Regions from separate parts of the Homo sapiens genome. Here region 2 is linked to region 1. A link means that fine-mapping ties the variant in region 1 to the expression of a gene that starts in the linked region. Tissue or cell type: monocytes after LPS. Region 1 holds a variant in brackets; the other region holds the start of a gene. All regions are shown on one strand. Distances are between the middles of the regions.

Region 1 (7,486 bases):
TGCCACTCCTAGAGGTGCCAGTCAGCATTTCAACAGTTAAGGGAGAGGGAAGAAGACCAGAGTTGGGATGGTATCATTTGCAGAGGAAAACAAGTGACTATTTACTTATTACAGAAGAAGATTGGGTCATCCAATGTGAATTTGGAGAGCATCCTTGCATTTCATTTATGCTTAAAAGCATCAGGAAACACAGTTTAATGCAAAATTTCCTTTTGCCTGTTTTGTCAATTCATAGAAATCGACAAAGAAATTGACATAGAAATTGACAAAATTTTTTGTTTCTTTAGCACATTTGGATTGACTTAGCGGAGAACTAACCTATTATAGCTTCCTATTTTGGCCCATGTGACTTTGTACAGTATCTTTGAAGAATGTTTTATTATACCAGAGGGCAGGGGGAGGGGTGTGTGTGTGTGTTGAATCCGAAAGCAGCATTGTGTTCATTGTTTTATTCTGCGGGATCATTCTATTCTAAAGATAGGATATAAACGTTGGTTCTTTGCTGTATTTAATTTCATTGCAATAGAATCCATTCAGCATTTTTAAATAAAAGGTGATTATTTTAATGTTAAATTCTATTACTTATATCTCTATAGAACATTCAGACTTGAATAAGAAAAGATTAGTTCAAGTTCATTTGAACTTAGTGCATTTGTATTACCTACTTGGATATTTATTATTTATTTGCCTATGTAGTATAAAAGCGTTAATTCCTTTGGCCTTATTAAGAAAATAGATCAGGCCGGGCACGGTGGCTCACACCTGTAATCCCAGCACTTTGGGAGGCTGAGGCGGGCAGATCACAAGGTCAGGAGATCAGATCGAGACCATCCTGGCTAACAAGGTGAAACCCCGTCTCTAATAAAAATACAAAAATTAGCCAGGCGTGGTGGTGGGCGCCTGTAGTCCCAGCTACTCAGGAGGCTGAGGCAGGAGAATGGCGTGAACCTGGGAGGCGGAGCTTGCAATGAGCTGAGATCACGCCACTGCACTCCAGCCTGGGCAACAGAGCAAGACTCTGTCTCAAAAAAAAAAAGAAAAAAGAAAATAGGTCATACTCAGTAGAAGAGATCACAGAGACCCAAAGTTGAAGAAAGTAGTAGAAATTCCAGTAGTAAAACCCGATATGCAAGTAAGCAGCACTATTAAAACCAACTTGTTTTGACAGTTAAGTCAAAAATAAATATAGCTGGGGCCGAGCATGGTGGCTTAGCCTGTAATCCCAGCACTTTGGGAGGCCAAGGCAGGCAGATCACCTGAGGTCAGGAGTTCAAGACCAGCCAGGCCAACATGGCAAAACCCCGTCTCTACTAAAAGTACAAAAATTAGGTGGGCTTGGTGGTGCATGCCTGTAATCCCAGCTACTAAGGAGGCTGAGGCAGGAGAATTGCTTGAACCTGGGAGGCAGAGGTTACAGTGAGCCGAGATCGCAGGCACCGGCCCTCCAGCCTGGGGGACAGAGCAAGACTGTTTCAAAAATAGTAATAACAATAATAAATACATATAGGGGCCAGGTGCAGGGGCTCACACCTGTAGTACTAGCACTTTGAGAGGCTGAGGTGGGCGGATCACCTGATGTCAGGAGTTTGAAACGAGCCTGGCCAACATGGTGAAGCGCTGTCTCTACTAAAAATACAAAAATTAGCCAGGCGTCGTGGCATGTGCCTGTAATCCCAGCTACTGAGTAGGCTGAGGCACGAGAATCGCTTGAACCCAGAAGGCGGAGGTTGCCCTGAGCCGAGATCATGCCACTGCACTCCAGCCTGGGTGACAGAGTAAGACTTTGTCTCTAAGTTAAATAAATAAATAAATATCAATCTGTCTGTCTTTCAAGAATAAGGCCAAAATAGTTGTGGAAGATAGGATAATATATGAAGTATCACTTTTGGTACTTGACAACAGTGGCGGGGCAAGGAACCTAAGGCATTGGTACTGCTCTCACTGGGGGAAAGGAGAAAGCAGGTCCAGTGGTTAATTCTGTGTACCTTAAGTATGTGGACATATATAATAAAATGGGAGTATAAAGGTGTCTTAGTACATTTTGTGTTGCTATAAAGGAATACCTGAGACTAGGTAATTGATAAAGAAAATGTTTATTTAGCTCAAGGTTCTGCAGGCTGGGAAAGTTCTGCAAGCCCTGGTTTCTGGGGAGGGCTTTTATAAAGCTGTGCCACAACATGGCCGAGAAGGTCAAAGGGGAAGTGGGTAACTGCAAAGATAGAAAACCCGAGGAGCATCCTGGCTTTATAACAACCCCCTTTCATGGGAACTCATTTCCACAGGAACTGATCCAGTTTTGCCAGAATGAGAACTCACTCACTACCACGTGAAGGGCATCAAGCCATTTATGAGGGATCTGCCCCCATGATCCAGACAACTCCCACTAGGCCCCACCTCCCAAGACCGCCACATTGGAGATCAAATTTCAATATGAGTTTTGATAGGGACAAACAAACCAAATCCAAACCATAGCAGTAGGCAACATAGGAAACCAAAAAACCTGAAAATAAACTATGAGACAGGAAATGAATACAGAAATATATTACATCATATTAAATGGACAAAGACATATTAAAAGCTTTCATTCCCTAGACATTGTATCCTAATAGGTACCTATAGTTGTAAACGTTAGTTAAATTGTCGTGTTAAAAAGAAGATGCAGTATGAAATAAAATTAACACAGAAAGGTTTGCTTCTGGTTATAGGCCATATTTTATGCAAAAAGAAGGAAACCTTTGCTGGATGAAAACAAAAGTAATCGAAGTTTATTTTAAGGAGTATTGGCCGGGCACGGTGGCTCATGCCTGTGATCCCAGCACTTGGGGAAGCTGAGGCGAGCAGATCACTTGAAGTCAGGAGTTCAAGACCAGCCTGGCCAACATGGTAAAACCTTGTCTCTACTAAAAATACAAAAATTAGCCAGCATGGTAGCAGGCACCTGTAATCCCAGCTACTCAGGAGGTCAAGGCAGGAGAATCACTTGGACCCAGGAGGCGGAGGTTGCATTGAGCCGAGATCTTGACACTGCACTTCAGCCTGGGTGACAGAGTGAAACTCCATCTCAAAAAACAAAAAAGAAGTTAAGGAGCATTAACAAGATCTGTACCTATATGTTTCTGTTTACATTATACCCCCCAAAAAAGAAAAACTCAGTTGCAGGTATGAGCAAAGGTATTGTTTGAGTTGTGTATTTTAAATCACTAATTTTTCTTTTCATACAAAATTGGCTTTTGGACTTGTAAAACTTTCACAGATAGTTTTAGAACTGTCCTTCCAACTATGGGAAATTATTATTACCAGTATGACAGCTAGCCACATTCTGTGATGGTATCTCACTTCCTAATGCATAGTGGGAAGTTGGCTTTACTTTTACAAAAAATAACTCACTTGGACTTCCCATTCTACCAGGAGGGTTAGAAACATGCAGCTACTGATTTATTGTCCTCAAAGCCCCTTGGAAGGTATAGCAGAGAACTGGAAATTTAAAAACCATTTTTATATTCATTAGTTTATCCATCCATTCAACAGATATTTGTTGAAAGCCTATTATGTGATATGAAATACGTTGAGATGTTCAGACAGAGATGATTAAGACATGTCCCTGCACTGAGGGAACTCTGTCTTCTGGGTTGTTTTTTTTTTTCTTCATATCTTCCCCAAAATTTCTAACTTTATATAAATTTAGACTTGGTTTCTGTTGAGTCTTTTACTAGTTTGAGACATTTTATTGCAGTATAGTGCAAAGTATTAATGGGCTAAGTATGTTAAATGCTGCTGTATTTGTAAGATCTCTTGCTTTGTCTGTGACCATGAAAGTCTCAGTGAAATGGGATCTTATTCCCTAAATCATAGCTCTGGTTTTAATGTTTCTTGATATTATTGCAGAGACTCTCCAACATGTGCCTTCTGACCATACAAATGAAACTTCCAACAGTACT[G/A]TGAAACCACCAACTTCAGTTGCCTCAGACTCCAGTAATACAACGGTCACCACCATGAAACCTACAGCGGCATCTAATACAACAACACCAGGGATGGTCTCAACAAATATGACTTCTACCACCTTAAAGTCTACACCCAAAACAACAAGTGTTTCACAGAACACATCTCAGATATCAACATCCACAATGACCGTAACCCACAATAGTTCAGTGACATCTGCTGCTTCATCAGTAACAAGTATGTATTAAAGCTGACCTTTTTTTTCCTATGCTGCAAGTAGTTAAATGCCACATTTAAGTCATTATTCTGTCTGGCAAAAATAATATAGAAACTTTATATGCCTAGATTTCCCTTAATTCCTAATTAAATGTTCTTAACACAGAAAATCAGAGAGCTTTAATTACAATGTTAAAAAAAAAAAAATAACGCTAAAGCCCTTTTTTGTTTTCTTTTGTTCTAGTCACAACAACTATGCATTCTGAAGCAAAGAAAGGATCAAAATTTGATACTGGGAGCTTTGTTGGTGGTATTGTATTAACGCTGGGAGTTTTATCTATTCTTTACATTGGATGCAAAATGTATTACTCAAGAAGAGGCATTCGGTATCGAACCATGTAAGTTTTGAATGGCCAGGACTTTTTAAAAAAAATTGTTGGTGCACATCTTTAATTATGATAGAATATCAAGCCAGTGCTCATCTCAGGGATGAATAATTGATAGATTTATGAGTTATATTCCCATTAACCCTTTTGGCCCAAAGTAAATTGTTTATGTACAAGCTTGTGATTATAATTATTTGCAAATGAAAATGGATGTATATACTTAAAAAAATGTATTTTACTAGTGTCAAACACACTTTACAGGAGACCAAAGTTAACCTACCCTGAAATTTTCACTTACTCATACCAATAATCGTAAGAAATACCAGTTCCCAGCAGGCTTTTGACTTAGTATGTCTGTGTCTGTTGTGGTACTAAATAGCATCCTTGGTAAAACCATGGCTTTTGTTTTCCACGACAAAGACAAAAAAAATTCCTCTGACAGCCTCATTATCCCTGAAAATTTAAATGAGTGGTTAGTATAAATAATATAATTTATCATTTTACCTGTAGCAAAACTCTCTTTTTAGATGTGCATTATCAACAAGACCTAATCCATGTTTACTCTACATGTAGCTCTATAGGTCTGATGGTTTGAGGATATATCCAAACTTTTGTTGCTCCAATAGTCCTTTTTGTTTTTGTTTTTTTGAGTCTTACGTGTTGTCTTAGTTCATGCTGACACAACAAAGTATCATACAGCTGGGTGCCTTAAACAGCAGACATTTAGTTCTCACACTTCCGGAGGCTTGGAAGTCCAAGATCAGGGTGCCACCATGGTTGAGTTCTAGTAAGGGCCTTCTTCACATGGCAGAAAGAAGGCGAGCTAGTTCTCTGACCTCTAATTGTAAGGGTATTAATTCTGTTCACGAGGGTTCCACCCTCACGACCTAACTACCTTCCCAAGGCCCCACTTCAAAATATCATCACACTGGGATTAGGGTTTCAACATACTCATATTGGGTGACACAAATGTAAGAGCTAATTCACTTTTTTTAGTGTTAATGTATATAAATACCATAGAACAGATGACTGTTTTCCAAAATTTGCCCTGTGGGTTAACATTTGACATACATGTGTCCCACACACACAGTTCCTATATCAAAAAGTGTGGGAAATGTTCAGTTGACTAAAGTAAACTAAGACAGTTTACTATAAGACTTCTCTAAGCCTTTAAAATATTGATATACATTATGATTTTCCAGGATGGAATACAGTATGAACTGTTTCCCAAATTTTTAACCAAAATACTTGTTGAATGAATAAATCCCTCCCCCTGCCCCTCTTCAATGGGAGCTAACACTGTCTATCTCTTGGAACTAGTATTGTGTGGAACACATTTTGGGAAATGTTGGAATAGGCCATTGGAATCTTCCAGTTTTGACACTACATATGATTCAGTACACATAAAAGTAAATCAAACTTCTTGATAGATTTTAAGAACATGGAAGTTTCCCAGATTTTCAGGTTACTGACATAAGCTCTAAATAAACATCGCATCATAAATGAAAATTGGATCTAACAGTTATATTACTAATACTTAAACAAAAATGATAATTTAAGAACAGATTTTTTTTTTTTTTGAGATGGAGTTTCCCTCTTGTTGCCCAGGCTGGAGTGCAATGGCACGATCTCGGCTCACTGCAACCTCTGCCTCCTGGGTTCAAGCTATTCTCCTGCCTCAGCCTCCCCAGTAGCTGGGATTATAGGTGCCTACCACCACGCCCAGCTAATTTTTGTATTTTTGGTAGAGATGGGGTTTCACCATGTTGGCCAGGCTGGTCTCAAACTCCTGACCTTAGGTGATCCTCCCACCTTGGCCTCCCAAAGTGCTGGGATTACAGGCGTGAGCCACCATATCTGGCCTTAAAAACATATTTTTAAAAGTTATATTTAAAGTTACGTTGCATATATTTATCATATCAAACTCACTTTAGCTTCCATGATCACATGAGATCAGACACATTCACAGTGGCATGGCTGTAGGCTCAAACTGATTTTAAAAGAATATTAAGGTGGTGGTTTGTCAGATTAAAGGCATATTCAGAAACATTCTTTTTTAAGGTCAATACATGAAAGAATACATAAAAGAAACCATGACTAAACAGAGTGCTTTGCAGTGGCTCTGTCACCCAGGTTGGAGTGCAGTGGTGCGATCACGGGTCACTGCAACCTCAGCCTCCTGAGCTTAAGTGATCCTCTTACCTCAGCCTGCTGAGTAGCTGGGACTACAAGCATGCAATGCCACACCAGGCTAATTTTTAAATGTTTTATAGAGATGGTAGTCTCACTGTTTTGCCCAGGCTGGTCTCAAACTCCTGGGCTCAAGTGATCCTCCTTTCTGACCTCCTAGAGTTCTGGGATTATAAGCATGAGCCACTGTGACCAGCTAGAAAGAAATATTTAATAGGGACTTACAAATAGAAGCTATGTCTGTGTCTATGATTGCAGCAAGACAAGATGGTGGATCCCCATGCCATTAACCCCCAGATCTTTAACCACTACAGTATATTGGATACTTAAGGAACTTTACACAGAACACTGACCATTTTGATTGTGCAGCTTGAAATTGTTCTAATCCTACTTTACTAACAAATAGGAACATAAGTAGTTTTGACAGAAAAAACAAAACAAAGTAATTGTAACTTTTAATATATTACAGAGATGAACATGATGCCATCATTTAAGGAAATCCATGGACCAAGGATGGAATACAGATTGATGCTGCCCTATCAATTAATTTTGGTTTATTAATAGTTTAAAACAATATTCTCTTTTTGAAAATAGTATAAACAGGCCATGCATATAATGTACAGTGTATTACGTAAATATGTAAAGATTCTTCAAGGTAACAAGGGTTTGGGTTTTGAAATAAACATCTGGATCCTTATAGACCGTTCATACAATGGTTTTAGCAAGTTCATAGTAAGACAAACAAGTCCTATCTT
Region 2 (7,486 bases), 84 kb after region 1:
ATCAGGTGCTTTACTAGGCACTGTAGAGGCCAAAAAGAGATAAAAAACAGAGGCCTCTGCCTGGTGCAGTGGCTCACGCCTGTAATCCCAGCATTTTGGGAGGCCAAGACAAGTGGATCACTTGAGGTCAGGAGTTCAAAACCAGCCTGGCCAAAATGGTGAAACCCCATCTCTACTAAAAATACAAAAATTAGCTGGGTGTGGTGGTACGCGCCTGTAATCCCAGCTACTCCGGAGGCTGAGGCAGGAGAATCATGTGAGCCTGGGAGGTGGAGGTTGCAGTGGGCCGAAATAGTGCCACTACACTCCAGCCTGGGTGACACAGCAAGACTCTGTCTCAAAAATAAAATAAAATAAAATAAAACCCAGAGGTTTCAAACTGGAAGACATATTATGTTTGGCTTACATAGAATTGCATTATAGTTCTTTACTAAGTTTTTATTTTTATTTTGAAATTTATTTATACTTAGAGAAAGCTTACAAAAATAATAGTTTCTGCATACTCTGCACTTAGCTTCCCCAAAGCTAACATCTTACCTAATTACAGTGCAATTAAAGAAACCAGAAAATTCACATTGTACCATGCTGTAGATTAATCTGCATGCCTCATTTGAATTTAATCCAGTTTCCAAATCCATTTTTTTCTTGGACCACAGTATTTTTAAATCTTACCATTAATTGCCAACATGTTTAAATGTAAGAGACTTCCCATCACATTCTAGATTCCAAGCTTCTCTTGAAACATCAAAAGATCTAGCAACACTGGGCCTATAGTCCTGCAGGGCAGCAATCAGCTAAAGCTGAGCAGCAGCTGTGCCCTTTAGAGAGGGAACATGTTCTCTTTGATTCCCTGACACTGGGACTGACTGTTCTGGTAGTCTCCACTAACAGTAACAGTCTAGCAATAACAGACTGTTGCTATTTGTCATTGAACTGGCACTATTGTTTTTCTTACAGCAGAATTATGAGAAAGTGAAATCAATGTAACACATGTGTCCATCAAAAGTAACAAAAATGAAAAGTAGAGAAAAAGGACATATGTTTTGAGAAAAATAGGATAATTTTTGTCTTTGTGGAAAGGAAGGATATTCCTTCATATCAAATACGTAAACAGAGTATGCTTTCATTTAAAAGAGACACCCCACAAGGCCTCATGCCATGGCTCACTCCTGTAATCCCAGCACTTTGGGAGGCTGAGGTAGATGGATTGCTTGAGCCCAGGTGTTTGAGACCAGCCTCAAACTGGGTGACTTGGCAAAACACCATCTCTACAAAGAAACTCAAAAATTAGCCAGACATGGTGGCACCTGCCTGTGGTCCCAGCTACTTGAGAGGCTGAGGCAGGAGGTTCACTTGAGCCCATGAGGCAGAGCTTGCAGTGTGAGACTGCATAACTGCACTCCAAACTGGGTGACAGAGCAAGACCCTGTCTCAAAAAAAGAGAGAGAGAGAGAAAGAGAGACACTGAGAGTTTTTCTCATTTATATCACCTCCATTTGAGTTTGCAAACCCCTTACACAAATCTTATCCTAAAGAAGCTTTAGGTCAGGCGTGGTGGCTCACGCCTGTAATCCCAGCACTTTGGGAGGCCAAGGAAAGCAGATAACTTGAGATCAGGAGTTCGAGACCAGGCTGGCCAACATGGTGAAACCCTGTCTCTACTAAAAATCCAAAAAAAAAAACCATCGGGCGTGGTGGCACGCACCTGTATTTCCAGCTACTCAGGAGACTGAAGCAGGAGAATCACTTGAACCCGGGAGGTGAAGGTTGCAGTAAGCCAAGATCACACCACTGCACTCCAGCAAGGCATATATTTGTGGAAATTTAGGCAACAACTATACAATAAATATACACAAATATGCCAAGATGTCAACCCTAGATCACTTCAACCTCTGTCCTAATCATTTCCAACACCTAGATGCAACCCTGCAGACTGGGACCAGCATCACTTAAGACTCCTCTGCCATCCCTTAGCAATAGGCTCAGCTCCCTAGCCCATGCCCTATGCACCTCTTCTAAACCTTCAACACCTTCCTCAAATTTCTCCACTGCACTCCATCTCATTTTCAGTCAATTACTTTGCCTTCTGTTTCTCAAAGAAAAGAGACATCATTGAGCAGGAACCTTCTCACGTTCTCATATCCAAGCCGTTTTGGCTCACAACCTACTTGCTGTCTCAGTTAAAGACTTGCCCCCTTATGGGATCCTACACTGTCCTACTGCCTCAGAAATCTTGTTCTTAATCCCATCCCCTCATTGCTTCAACTCTCATTCCTGTCACTCTCGACTGGCCTTTTTCCTTTCACATAACCATGCTTAAATCTATCTCAACTTTCAAATGAAAGAAATTTTTAAAATTCTCTTTCGGCCGGGTGTGGTGGCTCATGCCTGTAATCCCAGCACTTCAGGAGGCTGAGGCGAGTGGATCACGAGGTCAGGAGACTGAGACCATCCTGGCTAACACGGTGAAACCCCGTCTCTACTAAAAAAAATACAAAAAATTAGCCGGGTGTGGTGGCATGCACCTGTAGTCCCAGCTGCTCAGGAGGCTGAGGCAGGAGAATCGCTTGAACCCGGGAGGTGGAGGTTGCAGTAAGCCGAGACTGCACCACTGCACTCCAGCCTGGGTGACAGAGTGAGACTCTGTCTCAAAAAAAAAAAAAAAAAATCCTCTTTCAACCACACTTTCCACTCTAGCAACTACCCTGTATCACCCCTTCTCTTCACAGCCAAGCAAACTGGACATGTGTGTATGGTTAATGTCTCCATTTTCCCTCTCCCATTTACTCATTAAGTCAGCATCACTTAAAACTGCTTTCGGTGTTAATAACACCAATGGCTTTTTTGCTAAAACCAATGGAAATGTTTGCATCTGACACTGGGACACACTTCCTCTTAGAAATGTCCCATTCCCTGGGCTTCTCTGATACCAAGCTCTTGGGATTCTTCTTTCATTTCTAGTGGTTCCTTCTCAGATTGGCTCAGTCCCCAGCCTCTCCTCTTCTGACTCATTCATTTAACCTACCAAGAAGGCAACCTCCCCAGTCCCAGGGCTGTTGGGCATCCCTACCCTTTGGGCATGCAGCACATCCATTTTTCTGACACTGGAGGGCAAGTGTGCCTTTTCTTTCTGCCTCCCGCTAGACAGTAAGCTCTTTTAGAATGGCAACTATTAATATGTTTCATCTCTGTACCTGCCCTCCCACTCATAGCATCTGCAGAGCTTGGTATATGGGGTAGACACGAAGACTTCCCGTTGAAGAAGTAAATGACTGAGACCTGAGTGACCACAGTACTTCTATCAATTTTATATTAATGACCACAGAGTCAGCTCAGTGATTGATTAGTATCAGGCTTTGGAGTCAGACATCGGGGGTGCCCAATACCAAGCAGTCCGGTAACCAGAAGCATGACCTTGCACAAGTAAATCTCCAAGAGCCTCAGTTTCCTCATTGTCAAATGGAGATAATTATGGTACCTGCTTCTTAAGATTATGATAATTAAACGTGAAAAATACATGTAAAGTCTTCAGAGACAAACCTAGCACATAGCAGGTAGCAGTACTTAATGTTAGCAATAAATAATAGCAAATAAAGTCAATATTTAATATTATTGTTACGTTAGCATCAGGTACATGCCTTCGACAATGTATTGATCAGAGTAAGAGCACTACTAGGTTTCCATGCTGATCACCAGGAAGACAACCAAAAACTGCTGTCTTCCTACCACCGCTTGGAAACATGCGTCCATTTGCTCATTAAACGTTTTACTTCCTTCCTGTGCCAGAGCTCTGCCTTAGGCTCTGTCCTGAAATTTATTTGGCACCTGCAAAGGCCCAGTGATAACTCTTGGCAACCGAATCAAAATGCCACAACTTCACAATTCCACTGGCTCACTCCAAACGTGAAATAGAAATTGAGCACCTGGAACCTATCTAGAGCCTGCTTTTGGGCCCTGGTGTTTGATAACTGCGCCCCACCCACTGACTCTCAACCTCTGCAGCGCCCCGGGCTCTAGCCCTAAGCGCCCCTCGGCCAGCCGCTGGCACATCTCTTACACCAGGGGAGGCGCGCGCGCGCGCACACATACACACACACACACGCACACACACACACACACACACCAGCCTTCCTTGCCCACCTGCTGCCCAGAGGCCGACGACGCATGCACCAGCAAGGACAAGCCCAGTCTTTTCAAGCGACACCTGTCGCCTGGCCTTTTCCGTGCCGGAGGGCGCGAGTCTCACGCTGTCTTTTAAATGCGTCACCCAAATCCCCACCCCTATCTGTACCAGGCGTTCCGCACTCCTCCCAGTGGTTTGCATGTGCACTGGTGCTTTCCTTTTAGGACTTAGGGGAACTCCAGCGGTAATAACCACACACACTTCCTCTTAATCAGTGGCCTGGCAAACCCACTCGGGGATTTCCATGACCCAAAAGCATGACTCTTAACCGTGGCATATCTTCGCGGCATTTACTGAAAGACATTTGCTTCATTGCTCGTGGGTCAGAGGAAATCTTGATAACAACCCATATAGAGAGGACGATCATTGCTTAGCCTGCCTGGAAAAGGTCAATATGCCCTGTTCTCCACCCTCCATCCGCCATACACTTTACACGTAAAAAGGTTAGGTTTTTCAATCTTCTACTATAGCTGCAGAAGTCCAGCATTTAAAAAAAAAAAAATCGAAACTTTGTGAAATATTTCTATTTATTTTTACTTTTTGTTCTGATCAAGAAAGTAAGAGGTGAAAGGAAATGTAGGGGTATGTGAAAAAAATCATGCAGTTCTCCTTTGCAGTTTATTTTACCATTTTAAAGATTGAAATGGCTTGGTAAATTTTCTGTATGGAAATACTTTTGTTTGGTTTGGTGAGTTGTTTTTTTTTTTTTTTTAATAAGTAGGGTGGAGTTGGCTACTTAAAAAAATCCCTCCTTTATAGCCTTTGATCTCACAGGGCAGGTTTCTGAGTTGCAGTGCCATTCTCAGGGAAACCTGACATCTTTGAGTCTAATTGCACTGCCATATTTCCCTCAACGTTCTCTAAGCAGTAAATTTAAGCAACTTTATCTGAGAGCCATCCGTACCAGGGTAACAGATGGATTTGGAGAGCTCATCTGATTTTCTATCTTCCAGTAGATCAAAGACAATTACCAACCAGAGACAGAGCCCATAAAGATTATTGGAGACTTCATCGTTCTGTGGAAACAGCATCCAGTGCATTCTGCACGCAATTGGACTGAGCTGAGGCATCCTCTTGTTTAGGTGGACTTGGCTGTCCATAGCAGCTGAAGTTCCAGTTGGAATTATTTCAGAAAGACTAAGTGTATTTATCATATGGAGATTTTAATCCACATTTGAGTCTGCTTCAATCAAGACTTTCTAAGCCATTTTCAACTCACTCCTGAGATTATTGAAAATAATTTGCAGGCCTTACACATTTTTGATTATGTACTCACCAGAAGAATTTTGAAAAGCTCTGCATTCCCTTGCCCATTTTTAACTTAACATTAAAACATAAAGCTCTTGTACATGTCAAGAATCTACAAAATGTAAACATAGATATTTTCAGAAAAAATTGATAGAGCACTCTTTTAAATGTATTTGATGGATCCTAATACCATAGTAATTTGACATACATGATCATCCATGAAGCAATTATCAGGTCATCTTTAATAACTGAAAATATTTTATCATTGCCTTTTGTCATTGAACATTCCAATTCCCCTACAGAATGTTAATACATGTTTGTACTGAACATCTTTTATCATCTCTCTGTCACATATCTCTGAAACAAATACATATTAGAACTTGAAATCTATTTTTTTCTCTGGGATCATAAGGATCTAAGTGTTAAAAAAAAAAAAAATTCCTCTTTGACCAGGCATGGTGGCTCACGCCTATAATACCAGCACTTTGGGAGGCGAAGGTGGGTGGATCATCTGAGGTCAGGAGTTCAAGACCAGTCTGGCCAACATGGTGAAACCGGTCTCTCCCAAAAATACAAAAATGAGCCAAGTGTGGTGGTGCACGCCTGTAGTCCCAGCTACTTGGGAGGCTGAGGCACAAGAATCACTTGAACCTGGGAGGCAGAGGTTGCAATGAGTCAAGACAGTGCCACTGCACTCCAGCCCTGGAACAGAGTGAGACTGCATCTCAAAAAAAAAAAAAAAAAATCCTCTTTGATTACATTATCATTGATATTGTTTTCATTACTTTTAAAGCATAATTGGTCAATACAATATAAAAATATCGTAAATGTTAATAACTGCATTACAAATACAATTTAAGGGGGTGGCAGCTTGTATTTTAAGCAAGTTTTTCAAGTGTGCAGTCATGAATATTACCTATAGCTATAATATGTTAGGGTTCAGCACAGATTCTGTTCCTTTTTTCATTTCTACAGACATAAATGTTGTAAACCTTATTTCACAGAAGTAAGTAGATAAGTAGATAGGCCCAGAAGAAACATTATTATGGCAATTTTTTCACAATTTAAAAAATATGTTTTATATTCCAAAAATCATTTAGTGATCTCTAATCAAAATATGTAATTACTTATCAGTAGACAACTCAATTTTGTTGAAATTGGTGGTTTAGAAACCACTGAACTTTTGGTATCCAGATACAGTTGACAGAGTTAGCAAATTAAAACAGAGAACACCTAGTTAAATTTTGGTTTAATATAAACAATGAATGCATTTCCAGTATAAGAATGTATTGTGCAATATTTGGCACCTAGCTATACTAATAAGTTATTCATTAGTTATCTGAAATTTAGATTCAGTTTGGTGTTCTGTATTTTACCTGGCAACCCTATATCCAGATATTAGAGTCATTCATTTTCTCAACACTAATACAGATCGATTATTTCAAATCATCCAGGAGGTTTCTACACCCAGAGAAATATACGATTTTAAAACTCATGATAGGTGAGAGGTGAGCCTGTCTTTTAAGGGAAGACAGAGAACCATTGTGAAAAGGGAGATGAGAAGACAGAACAACCCTGGCAACCTTCACAGTTCTTGTTTTCAAGCAGATCAGTTTTGGGAGAAGCTACATATGGAAGTTGAGAGTGAGACTATTAATTCCTTAAAACTATTTGAGCTCCCACCTCCCTGTTGGTAAGTCTTTGTAAACACCCAGGGGCACACTTACCCCAGTTTAAAAACTATGGCTGGCCAGGCACATTGGCTCACACCTGTAATCCCAGCACTTTGGGAGGCTGAGGTGTGTGGATCACCGGAGGTCAGGAGTTCGAGACCAGCCTGGTCAACATGGCAAAACCCCATTTCTACTAAAAATACAAAGATAAGCGGGTCATGGTGGCAGGTGCCTGTAATCCCAGCTACTTGGGAGGCTGAGGCAGGAGAATTGCTTGAACCCGGGGAGGCAGAGGTTACAGTGAGCTGAGATCTCGCTACTGCACTCCAGCCTGGGAGAGAGAGCAAGAATCCATTGCCAAAAAAGTAAATAAATAAAAATA

Which allele goes with the higher level. Alleles are on the strand shown, and positions count from the first base shown. SD is a standard deviation of normalised expression in the study named.
In carriers of allele G in region 1, the expression in monocytes after LPS of the gene that starts at base 4,228 in region 2 tends to be higher than with A alone (large effect, 1.3 SD a copy in Kim-Hellmuth 2017).

Evidence for each region. PIP is the estimated chance that this variant, and not a neighbour inherited with it, causes the effect.
Region 2: it holds the start of BIRC3, and the variant in region 1 is fine-mapped to the expression of BIRC3 in monocytes after LPS (Kim-Hellmuth 2017, PIP 0.95).

The regions. Positions count from the first base shown.
Region 1 is chr11:102,398,606-102,406,091 of GRCh38, reverse strand. TMEM123 (transmembrane protein 123) reads left to right here. Exons shown (of 5, transcript NM_052932.3): 3 at 3,886-4,176; 4 at 4,400-4,553; 5 at 7,201-7,486. The coding sequence ends at 7,225. Among named protein-coding and RNA genes, the nearest start is that of TMEM123, 50 kb to the left of the region's middle. The variant G/A (reference allele first, on the strand shown) is at 3,939.
Region 2 is chr11:102,314,226-102,321,711 of GRCh38, reverse strand. It overlaps BIRC3 (baculoviral IAP repeat containing 3), which reads right to left and starts at 4,228. Exons shown (of 9, transcript NM_001165.5): 1 at 4,141-4,228. LOC124902739 (a long non-coding RNA gene) reads left to right here and starts at 4,469. Exons shown (of 2, transcript XR_007062864.1): 1 at 4,469-4,626; 2 at 5,140-5,817. RefSeq lists enhancers at 1,246-1,355, 1,977-2,056, 2,927-2,976, 3,237-3,436, 4,238-4,597 and 2 more.